2 separate regions of the Homo sapiens genome follow, and region 2 is linked to region 1. Evidence: fine-mapped QTL for protein levels in blood plasma. A gene starts in region 1. The other region holds a variant in brackets. All regions are shown on one strand. Distances are between the middles of the regions. Region 1 holds the start of ADM (adrenomedullin). Region 2 overlaps CAND1.11 (a long non-coding RNA gene).

What was found. A credible set is the group of variants that fine-mapping cannot tell apart. PIP is the chance, under the fine-mapping model, that this variant and not a neighbour inherited with it causes the effect. Protein levels are from antibody-based Olink assays in UK Biobank. Linkage for the fine-mapping came from a reference panel and not from the study's own genotypes, which makes the PIPs less certain.
Region 2: its variant is the best candidate, but not a certain one, in a credible set for the plasma level of the ADM protein (UK Biobank, PIP 0.50).

Annotation. Positions count from the first base shown.
Region 1 is chr11:10,301,168-10,306,499 of GRCh38, reverse strand. It overlaps ADM (adrenomedullin), which reads right to left and starts at 1,427. Exons shown (of 4, transcript NM_001124.3): 1 at 1,271-1,427; 2 at 702-820; 3 at 402-551; 4 at 1-168. The coding sequence starts at 799. It also overlaps a transcript of SBF2 not described here. RefSeq lists silencers at 836-885, 906-955, 1,636-1,685, 1,866-1,965, 2,456-2,515 and enhancers at 3,440-3,619, 3,640-3,719.
Region 2 is chr11:10,341,846-10,347,227 of GRCh38, reverse strand. The region is part of intron 2 of CAND1.11 (a long non-coding RNA gene); the gene reads right to left. Among named protein-coding and RNA genes, the nearest start is that of CAND1.11, 36 kb to the right of the region's middle. The variant G/A (reference allele first, on the strand shown) is at 2,746.

The DNA.
Region 1 (5,332 bases):
CTCCTGGGGGCGACGTTGTCCTTGTCCTTATCTGTGAACTGGTAGATCTGGTGTGCCAGCTTCTGCACCGTGCACGTCCCGAAGCGGCAGCCAAAGCTCCGGAGGCCCTGGAAGTTGTTCATGCTCTGGCGGTAGCGCTTGACTCGGATGCGGGCGGCATCCGGACTGCTGCGGGCGGGGGGAGGGGGAAGAAAGGCAACTTGAGACCCCATCAAGCAGAGCTTTGGCCCCAACACCGGGAACGGGAGCCATTCTAGAGCCAGAGGGAGCTGGAAACTGCTCGCGCCATCTGAGCTGCGGTCCAGCCCCGACGATCCCCCGGGCCAGGGGAGTGGAGACAGAGAACTCCTCCCGCACACCTTCCTTCCCTCCCGTCCCTGGACAGCACAGGGCGTAGTTACCTGTCTTCGGGGCTTCGAGAGGCACCCTTCATGTCCTGGGGCCGAATAAGGGTCTGGGCAGGCCCGGCCTTCACGTCAGCGAGCCCGGTGGGGTAGCTGCTGGACATCCGCAGTTCCCTCTTCCCACGACTCAGAGCCCACTTATTCCACCTGGAAAACACAAGCAGACCCGATTCGCGTGCGTTCAGGTGACGCCCAGGCCTGTCCCTGCTCCCATTCACTTCTAGACCTTCGGGACCAACGGTCAGTTCCCCTTGCCTGCCAGGTACCAGCAAGGGGGAAGGCGCTGCCCGGACTCACTTCTTTCGAAACTCCGACGCGACATCCAACCGAGCGGTGTCAGCGCCTAGGAAGGCGAGCGAACCCAGGTACATCAGGGCGACGGAAACCAGCTTCATCCCGGCTGCGAAGCGCAGACCCTGGAAAAGAAGAAAGAGAGTCGAGCGTGAGCACCCGGGCCAGCTGCACCGCCCGGGCGGGGCACGGAGGGCGGGCAGGGGCCCCGGCGAGGCGGGTTTAGCCCGCGCTTTCCCTGGCTCAGACGCTTATCTCCCTCCGCGCAGAGAGGCGCCAGAGGCGTTTGCACGCGCCGGCCGGGTGACAGGCCCCGCAGGGGAGGCCGCTGCACCCCGCCAGGCTCCCAGAGGGTCTCTGCTCAACTTCTTGGAACTTGGCTGACGGAGCAGAGGGGACTGGGTCTCTGGACCTCCAGCTGTGTGCACGAGCTGGGCCCAGGATATGGGGTGTATCTATCTCTCAGAGAACCCTCCAAAGTGGGTTGTTCCCCTCACCCAGCGCTCCCAGTTTAGGGCCTTGGCAAGCACTGCCCCCCACCCCACCTCTTAACCCGCAGGGTCTGCGGCACCTACCTGCTAAGAGAGTGATCTGCCAAGTACTTGAAGGAGAAAGTCTCAGACGTCCCACTGGCAATGGCAAAACTCCGAAGTCCAAGCCCAGCTGCAGTGAGAAGCCCGAAGTGGCAAGGCTTGAGCTGTTCTATCCAGTGTCACCAAGAAACCACTGAGTGGCCAGCTCTGGTTCCTGTGCTTTATAAGCGCACGGGTGGGGGAGCGGCGGGGCGGGGCCTGGGCTGCCCGGTTGCCTTCCCTTTCTTTCCTCAGCCACGCGCGCTCCTGCTCTCGGACGCGCGCATTGCTTCCTTTGGGGCTGGAGTTGGGATGGGGGGAGGGGGGAGCGGGGGAGAGGAGGTCCCTCGTGCCCAGAGGGCTTAGGTATGGGCTCCAGGCGGTTGGTGCAGGAACTGCCACAGCCCTCTTTGGGCACAGGGTTCAGACAGTACGCCGGAGCGAAGGGGCGCCACTACAACCTCTTGAGGTCCTTATCCAGGACCCATGCGGCCCGGAGTGCAAAGCCTCCTGGCGAAGAACAGCAAGAGCCCGCGGAAGGGACAGCGCGGATGGCCCGAGCCCTGGACCTGGGGAGCTGTGGCCTCAAGTGGACCGCGCCCCCCTGCCGGCTTGGCGCCTGACCGGGCCGCGACCCCAGACTCCCGCGGAGGGGCCGGGGCAGGGACGGAGCAAAGCCGAGAGGAGCAGGACTCACTAGTCCCCCAGAGGACCAAGACCCCGGCGTTTCGGGGTGAGCTAGTAAGATTTCACGGTAGGGACAAGGCTCAGAAAAGCTAAATTGAGAATTGGGATTTGGAGGGGGGAATTATCTGAAATTTCAGAATTTTCATTTCTATTTGGAAACATAGGAATAACCAAAATTAGGAGGAAATATACTGTTTCATTTTGCCTCCTTGTAATCCTATTATGCCTTATAAGGTCATAACCTGAGATTGTGCCTGGCTGCCTTCATTAATCCATCGTAAACGTGAGGACTGACTGCCAGGGAGCACACTAACGCTTCACGTATGCTAATCATTTTACAGTTTACCAAGCACGGCCACATCCCAGTCTACTTTGAGCTTCACAGCCACCCTTGAGTCAGGCAAGGAAGGTAACATTCCTTTTCCCATTTCAGCAGGTAGAAAATTCAAGCTCAGAGAGGGGAGGTATCTGCAGAGAGGGGAAGTCACCCTGCAGGTAGGAAGCAGCAGAGTCCCTACTCGGCCCGACACGCTAGCACGGCCGACTGGGGCGCGGCGTGGATTCCTCTAGGCTGGGGTCACCAACTTCTCAAGGGGCAAAGGAGAGTCCTAGCCCCCGCCCAAAGAATTTGTGCCTGTTCATGATGAATCACGCTAGACACGTTTGTCACCCGTTTGTGCTCTTTCATCACAGCTTCTTCTCTTTCTTACTTCTCTCCTGGGGGCCAAACTGGGAAGGAAAGGCTAAGCCACGGGGCTTCCTGCTTCGTGCTTGTGGGTTTCTGGGGTCCTACTAACCACTCCTCTAATCGAATGTCCTGAAGCCCAGCGACTCGACGGAGAGGCCAAAGGTGCGAGACCACTAGCCAAACAGGCTTCTAGTCCTCACCTCCCGGCAATTCGCTGTGTGAAGGTGGGCGAGTCATGTCCCATCTCTCGAGTCCCCATCTTAGAGCCGGTCCCCAGCAGACCTTTAAGCTTCCTTCCTACTCTGCCATATGGCTCTGAGCTCCGGTGCAAAGGCGGCTGGGCAGTGGGTCGCGCGGACCTTGCCCAGAGTGGTCTGTCTGGGCCGCGCACTGCTGGCTTAGCTGCCTTTTCACTCTCGGGACTCAACAGTGGACATTGCACCTGGGGAAGAAATGGCCGCGCGGAAGTTATTTAAGGACTCTTCCTGGAAGGAGTCACCTGAGCGGACCTGAATTCCATCTGAGGACGGAGGACAGATTCCGGGCCCTGACCCTGGCCCTGGTAAGGGGTTGGGACGCGGAGGGTTAGAGGAGTGCAGCGCGGCGCACTGGTCTGGATCCGGCCGCCCGGCTGGGCGCAGGGCAGTCACCGAAGTGGCCTGGCCGGGCGACTAGTCCGTCTGCACCGCAGACAGCAGCTATTACTGAACGCCTGCTCGGTGACCAGGAGCCTCCCCAGCCTAACTATTGTTCTTCTCCCTTGTCTCCCATTTCCTTTTCCTTTCACTTTATCCTCTGCGAGTCAAGCTCTTCGCGCAGATCCAGGACTGGCTATCAGTCGCTCTGAGGATGCGACCTACTTGTCGCCAGCTTCCACTTGGTTCCGCGCCAGGACAGGTTTTACTTTCATTTCTCCCGCGCGCGCCTCCGACTGCTGGGGAGGTCAAGGACAGCTAGGCGTCGGCCCACGGCCAGGGAAGGTCCCGTGGTCTGGACTCGTTCCTTCCAGTCTCCACCAGTCCTGGGGGGTGGGGCGCGGCGGGGGTGTTCGTTCTCCAGAGAACTCTGCGACTGTACCTCGCTGCCACCTCGCTGCCTCCTCGCTGCCCTTTACAAAAGCTCGTGATTCCGTGGGGGAAACTTGAGCTGTGGCTCTGCCAGGAGGATCGCGAAGCAAGTGCCCTTGGTTCAAACTCCTCTTTGAGCTGCAGGCAGCTTCAAAAAGGAAAGCAAGCCCAGGAGTGTAGGGAGACTCAGAGGCTAGGCTCTGCCAGCCTCGGGTGCCTATGCCAGCAACCTCTTGGCTGTGACAAGAATTCCCACCTGAGAGTCTTGGCATGCACTTTATCAGCCTGGTGCACTTTGCCGCTCTGGCACTTAGAGATCTGTCACTTGAGAACCAAGTCAATTCTTTAAGTAAAATCTTGGATTGGCAGCTCAAAGTATTTTCCTAGAAAGCCCCTATCTTGGAGTGAGTGAGTGTGTGCGCGAGCGCGCACCCCGCTTGCATGGGTGAGTAGCAGGGGCTAGAGTGCTCCCCAAAGCTTCGTGGGTTTAAGTCGAAAAAAGATAAGGAGTTTGTTAAATCTGGGCATCTATGTTTTTTCTCGTGAAATCTCGAGTTTGTTTAATTAATCATCGTTAACGACAAAAAAAAATCACTAGAATGCATTTCTGGTTCAGTGGTTCTATGGAGAAGGAAATGCTGCAGTGGGAGTTCTGATCCTGGCAATTTATTAACATAAGTTGCATCCATTCAAGTGGCAGTGATTGTAGATTCACGTTGAGCAAGGACAGTACAAGGAAGGAAGGAAGTGAAGGAAGAAACATCTTTAAATTTCTGGCAAGAAAAGAGAAAAGAAAAAGAAAAAAAAATCCTTGTTAATGAAGATCTACTTTTTTTGTGTGCTCCAGAATTTCAAAAGGTCAGATTACAAATAAACCTCCAAACCACTGTAATAAATGTGTACATCCTGACATTAGGGAGACACACATACACATATGCTAAAGGGTTTTTGCGTAATGGTGTTTCAACTTCTTCACATTCCAATTGAATGATTTTTAGGCCCTATATCCAAGCCTGATTCTTAGTAAAGTTTGGAGTTTAAAAAAATATGTGGTAGTGGTTTCTCAGCTAGCACTGTGGACACAGTTCTTAAAGCCAGAGTGGCCATACTCAGGTCTTTCAGAGAAGCATTGAAAAATAATAAATATCAATGATATTAATAAGAATAACTAAAATGTGAGTAGCTAAGTGCATTGCATAATTATCTCAGATGCCTCCTTTATCAAACAGGAAATTTTATGATGCATTTATTATTAATATAGTTCAAAATGTCTTTTAAGCTGAGGACTTGTTTACAAAGTTCACTTGAAAACAAAGTTCAAGATGCATCCTGAAGTCATAACACAAAGTGATTTAGAGAAAGAACACAATCAGCCTTGTGGATTTGATCACTTACAAGGAGAAGTAAAGCAGGATACAAAGCCCAGGGCACTTTTTTGGGATCTCTGACTTCTCTAAGGACCTAATAAAAATATAGATCCTTTCCAGAAAAATGAACATGTACATAAACCGATTAAAGTATAAAATAGGCATACAGTTCCGGGAGGTTGACCAAGTTTAAAACCCTGACACAGAATAAAAAACACTGTTTCCATATTTTAAATTTCTGTCTGGTTTATAGTGG
Region 2 (5,382 bases), 41 kb before region 1:
AGAGGTACAGCAATCTGAGGATTATGATTCTGCTAGGGATGGGAGTAGAGATGAAGCTGGTTGGAAATGGGAGAACTTACGTGCTTCAATTTTTTGAATATAGCTTCAAAACATGTATTAATTACAAATGTATCCAGCTGGGAATAACAAAAAATATTAAAAACCAAAACAGGTGGTTTAAACCACTGGTTCTTAATCTGGGCTACACATTGGAATCTGCTGGAGAGTTTTTTAAATTATTGAAGCTAGGGCTGGGTGCAGTGGTTCACACCTGTAATCCCAGCACTTTGGGAGGCTAAGGCAGCAGAATCGTTTGAGACCAGGAGTTCAAGGCTGTAATGGGCTATGGTTGTGCCACTGCCCTCTGGCCTGGGAGACAGAATGAAATCCTGCTTCCAATTATTGAGGCTTAGATCCTACCACCAAAAATTCCTATTCATTTGGGGGTGTATAGGGAGATCTTAAAACTGGGAACTTTAAGACTCCACAGGTGATTTTAATGGGTAGCTAAGTTTGAGGGCCACTTTACTAACTAGTTCAAAAAAGTAAAGGCTTAGCCAGGTGTGGTGACATGCACCTGTAGCCCCAGCTACTCAGGAGGCTGAGGTGGGAGGATCACTTGAGCCCAGGAAGTTGAGGCTGCAATGAGCGGTGATTGCACTACTGCACTCCCACCTGGGTGACAGAGCAAGACCCTGAATCAAAAAACAAAACAAAAAGTAAAGGCTTTTTTTAAACATAACACAAAATCCAGAAGTGGGTGGACCAAAACCAGCATAGTTGCTAAAGGTTGTCATCAAGGAATCAGGATCTTTCCATCTTTCTGCTCCACCATACTTAGCTCTCAGCTTTCATTGTCTTGGTAAATAAATGGCTGCTGCTACCGCATTGGATCAAAGCTCCAGACAGGGAGAGGGAGAAGGGCAAAAACACTCCTCCTCACAAGTCTTTGCCTTTTTTTTTTTTTTTTTAACATTTTCATAATTTTCTTTTAATTTCAATCCTCTGAAGTAACTAATTCTTTTTGGTTGATACTATGTTCCTGATTTTATTTTTTTATTTTATTTTTTATTATACTTTAAGTTCTAGGGTACATGTGCACAACACACAGGTTTGTTACATAGGTATACATGTGCTATGTTGGTTTGCTGCACCCATCAACCCATCATCTACATTACGTATTTCTCCTAATGCTATCCCTCCTCTAGCCCCCGACCCCTGACAGGCCCGGGTGTGTGATGCTCCCCACCCTGTGTTCATGTGTTCTCATTGTTCAATTCCCACCTATGAATGAGAACATGCGGTATTTGGTTTTCTGTCCTTGTGATAATTTGCTGAGAATGGTTTCCAACTTCATCCATGTCCCTGCAAAGGACATGAACTCATCCTTTTTTATGGCTGCATAGTATTCCATGATGTATATGTGCCACATTTTCTTAATCCAGTCTATCATTGATGGACATTTGGGTTGGTTCCAAGTCTTTGCTATTGTGAATAGTGCTGCAATAAACCTACATGTGCATGTGTCATTATAGTAGCATGATTTATAATCCTTTGGGTATATACCCAGTAATGGGATGGCTGGGTCAAATGGTATTTCTAGTTCTGGATCCCTGAGGAATCACCACACTGTCTTCCACAATGGTTGAACTAATTTACCCTCCCACCAACAGTGTAAAAGTGTTTCTATTTCTCCACATCCTCTCCAGCATCTGTTGTTTCCTGACTTTTTAATGATCACCATTCTAACTGGCATGAGATGGTATCTCATTGTGGTTTTGATTTGGATTTCTCTGATGACCAGTAAGGATGAGCATTTTTTTCATGTCTTTTGGCTGCATAAATGTCTTCTTTTGAGAAGTTCATATCCTGTGCCCACTTTTTGATGGGGTTGTTTGTTTTTTTCTTGTAAATTTGTTTAAGTTCTTTGTAGATTCTGGATATTAGCCCTTTGTCAGATGGGTAGATTGCAAAATTTTTCTCCCATTCTATAGCTTGACTGTTTACTCTCATGGTAGTTTCTTTTGCTATGCAGAAGCTCTTTAGTTTAATTAGATCTCTTTTGTCTATTTTGGCTTTTGTTGCCATTGCTTTTGGTGTTTTAGTCATGAAGTCTTTGCCCATGCCTATGTCCTAAATGGTATTGCCTAGGTTTTCTTCTAGGGCTTGTATGGTTTTAGGTGTTACATTTAAGTATTTAATCCATCTGAGTTAATTTTTGTATAAGGTGTAAGGAAGGGATCCAGTTTCAGCTTTCTACATATGGCTAGCCAGTTTTCCCAGCACCATATATTAAATAGGGAATCCTTCCCTCATTTCTTGCTTTTGTCAGGTTTGTCAAACATCAGTTGGTTGTAGATGTGTGGTGTTATTTCTGAGGCCTCTGTTCTGTTCCATTGGTGTATACATACATATATACATACATACATACATACATATATATATATTCCCAGCACCATATATTAAATAGGGAATCCTTTCCCCATTTCTTGCTTTTGTCAGGTTTGTCAAACATCAGTTGGTTGTAGATGTGTGGTGTTATTTCTGAGGCCTCTGTTCTGTTCCACTGGTGTATACATGCATACATACATACATATATACACACATATATATATACATATATACACACATATATATACACACATATATATACACATATGTATATATACATATATACACATATGTATATATACATATATATACACATATGTATATATACATATATATACACATATGTATATATAC[G/A]TATATATACACATATATATATAACAACACAGATATATATATATATATTTCTATGTGTTGGTACCAGTACCATGCTGTTTTGGTTACTGCAGCATGATAGTATAATTTGAAGTCAGGTAGCGTGATGCCTCCAGTTTTGTTCTTTTTCCTTAGGATTCTCTTGGCTATGTGGGCTCTTTTTTGGTTCCATATGAACTTTAAAGTAGTTTTTTTCCAATTCTGTGAAGAAAGTCATTGGTAGCTTGATGGGAATGGCATTGAATCTATAAATTACCTTGGGCAGCATGGCCATTTTCATGATATTGATTCTTCCTACCCATACGCATGGAATATTCTTCCATTTGTTTGTGTCTTCTTTTATTTCATTCAGCAGTGGTTTGTAGTTCTCCTTGAAGAAGTCCTTCACATCCCTTCTAAGTTGGATTCCTAGCTATTCTATTCTCTTTGTAGCAATTGCGAATGGGAGTTCACTCATGATTTGGCTCTCTGTTTGTCTGTTATTGGTGTAAAGAATGCTTGTGATTTTTGCACAATGGTTTTGTATCCTGAGACTGCTCCAGTTGTTTATCAGCTTAAGGAGATTTTGTGCTGAGATGATGGGGTTTTCTAAATAAACAATCATGTCATCTACAAACAGGGACAATTTGACTTCCTCTTTTCCTGATTGAATACCTTTTATTTCCTTCTATTGCCTGATTGCCCTGGCCAGAACTCCAACACTATGTTGAGTAGGAGTGGTGAGAGAGGGCATCCTTGTCTCGTGCCGGTTTTCAAAGGGAACGCTTCCAGTTTTTGCCCATTCAGTGTGATATTGCCTGTGGGTTTGTCATAAATAGCTCTTATTATTTTGAGATACGTTCCATCAATACCTAGTTTATTGAGAGTTTTTAGCATGAAGGGCTGTTGAATTTTGTCAAAGGCCTTTTCTGCATCTATTGAGATAATCATGTGGTTTTTGAGGTTGGTTCGTTTATGTGATGGATTATGTTTATTGATTTGCACATGTTGAACCAGCCTTGCATCCCAGGTGTGAAGCCGACTTGATCATGGTGGATAAGCTTTTTGACGTGCTGCTGGATTCAGTTTGCCAGTATTTTATTGAGGATTTTCACATTGACGTTCATCAGGGATGTTTGTCAAAAATTCTCTTTTTTTATTGTGTCTCTGCCAGGCTTTGGTAATCAGGATGATGCTGGCCTCATAAAATAAGTTAGGGAGGATTCCCTCTTTTTCTATTGATTGAAGTAGTTTCAGAAGGAATGGTACCAGCTTTTCTTTGTACGTCTGGTAGAATTTGGCTGTGAATCCTTCTGGTCCTGGACTTTTTCTGGTTGGTAAGCTATTAATTATTGCCTCAATTTCAGAGCCTGTTATTGGTCTATTCAGAGATTCAGCTTCTTCCTGGTTTAGTCTTGGGAGGGTGTACGTGTCGAGGAATTTATCCATTTCTTCTAGATTTTCTAGTTTATTTGCATAGAGGTGTTTATAGCATTCTCTGATGGTAGTTTGTATTTCTGTGGGATTGGTGGCGATATCCCCTTTGTCATTTTTTATTGTGTCTGTTTTATTCTTCTCTCTTTTCTTAACTAGTCTTGCTAGCAGTCTATTTTGTTGATCTTTTCAAAAAACCAGCTCCTGGATTCATTGATTTTTTGAAGGGATTTTGTGTCTCTATCTCCTTCAGTTCTGCTCTGATCTTAGTTATTTCTTGCCTTCTGCTAGCTTTTGAATTTGTTTGCCTTGCTTCTCTAGTTCATTTAATTGTGATGTTAGGGTGTCAATTTTAGATCTTTCCTGCCTTCTCTTGTGGGCATTTAGTGCTATAAGTTTCCCTCTACACACTGCTTTAAATGTGTCCCAGAGATTCTGGCACATTGTGTCTTTGTTCTCATTGGTTTCAAAGAACATCTTTATTTCTGCCTTCATTTCGTTATGTACCCAGTAGTCATTCAGGAGCAGGTTGCTCAGTTTCCATGTAGTCATGTGGTTTTGAGTGACTTTCTTAATCCTGAGTTCTAATTTGATTGCGCTGTGGTCTGAAAGACAGTTTGTTGTCATTTCTGTTCTTTTACATTTGGTGAGCAGTGCTTTACCTTCAACTATGTGGTCAATTTTAGAATAAGTGTGATGTAATGCTGAGAAGAATGTATATTCTGTTGATTTAGAGTGGAGAGTTCTGTGGATGTCTATTAGGTCCACTTGGTGCAGAGCTGAGTTCAAGTCCTGGATATCCTTGTTAACTTTCTGTCTTGTTGATCTGTCTAATGTTGACAGTTGGGTGTTAAAGTCTCCCATTATTATTGTGTGGGAGTCTAAGTCTCTTTGTAGGTCTCTAAGGACTTGCTTTATGAATCTGGGTGCTCCTGTATTGGGTGCATCTATATTTAGGACAGTTAACTCTTTTTGTTGAATTGATCCTTTTTCCATTATGTAATGGCCTTCTTTGTCTCTTTTGATCTTTGTTGGTTTGAAGTCTGTTTCATCAGAGACTAGGATTGCAACCCCTGCTTTTTTATTTTTTTATTTTTTTATTTTTTATTTTTTGCTTTTCATTTGCTTGGTAGATCTTCCTCCATCCCTTTATTTTGAGCCTATGTGTGTCTCTGCACGTGAGATAGGTCTCCTGAATAGAGCACA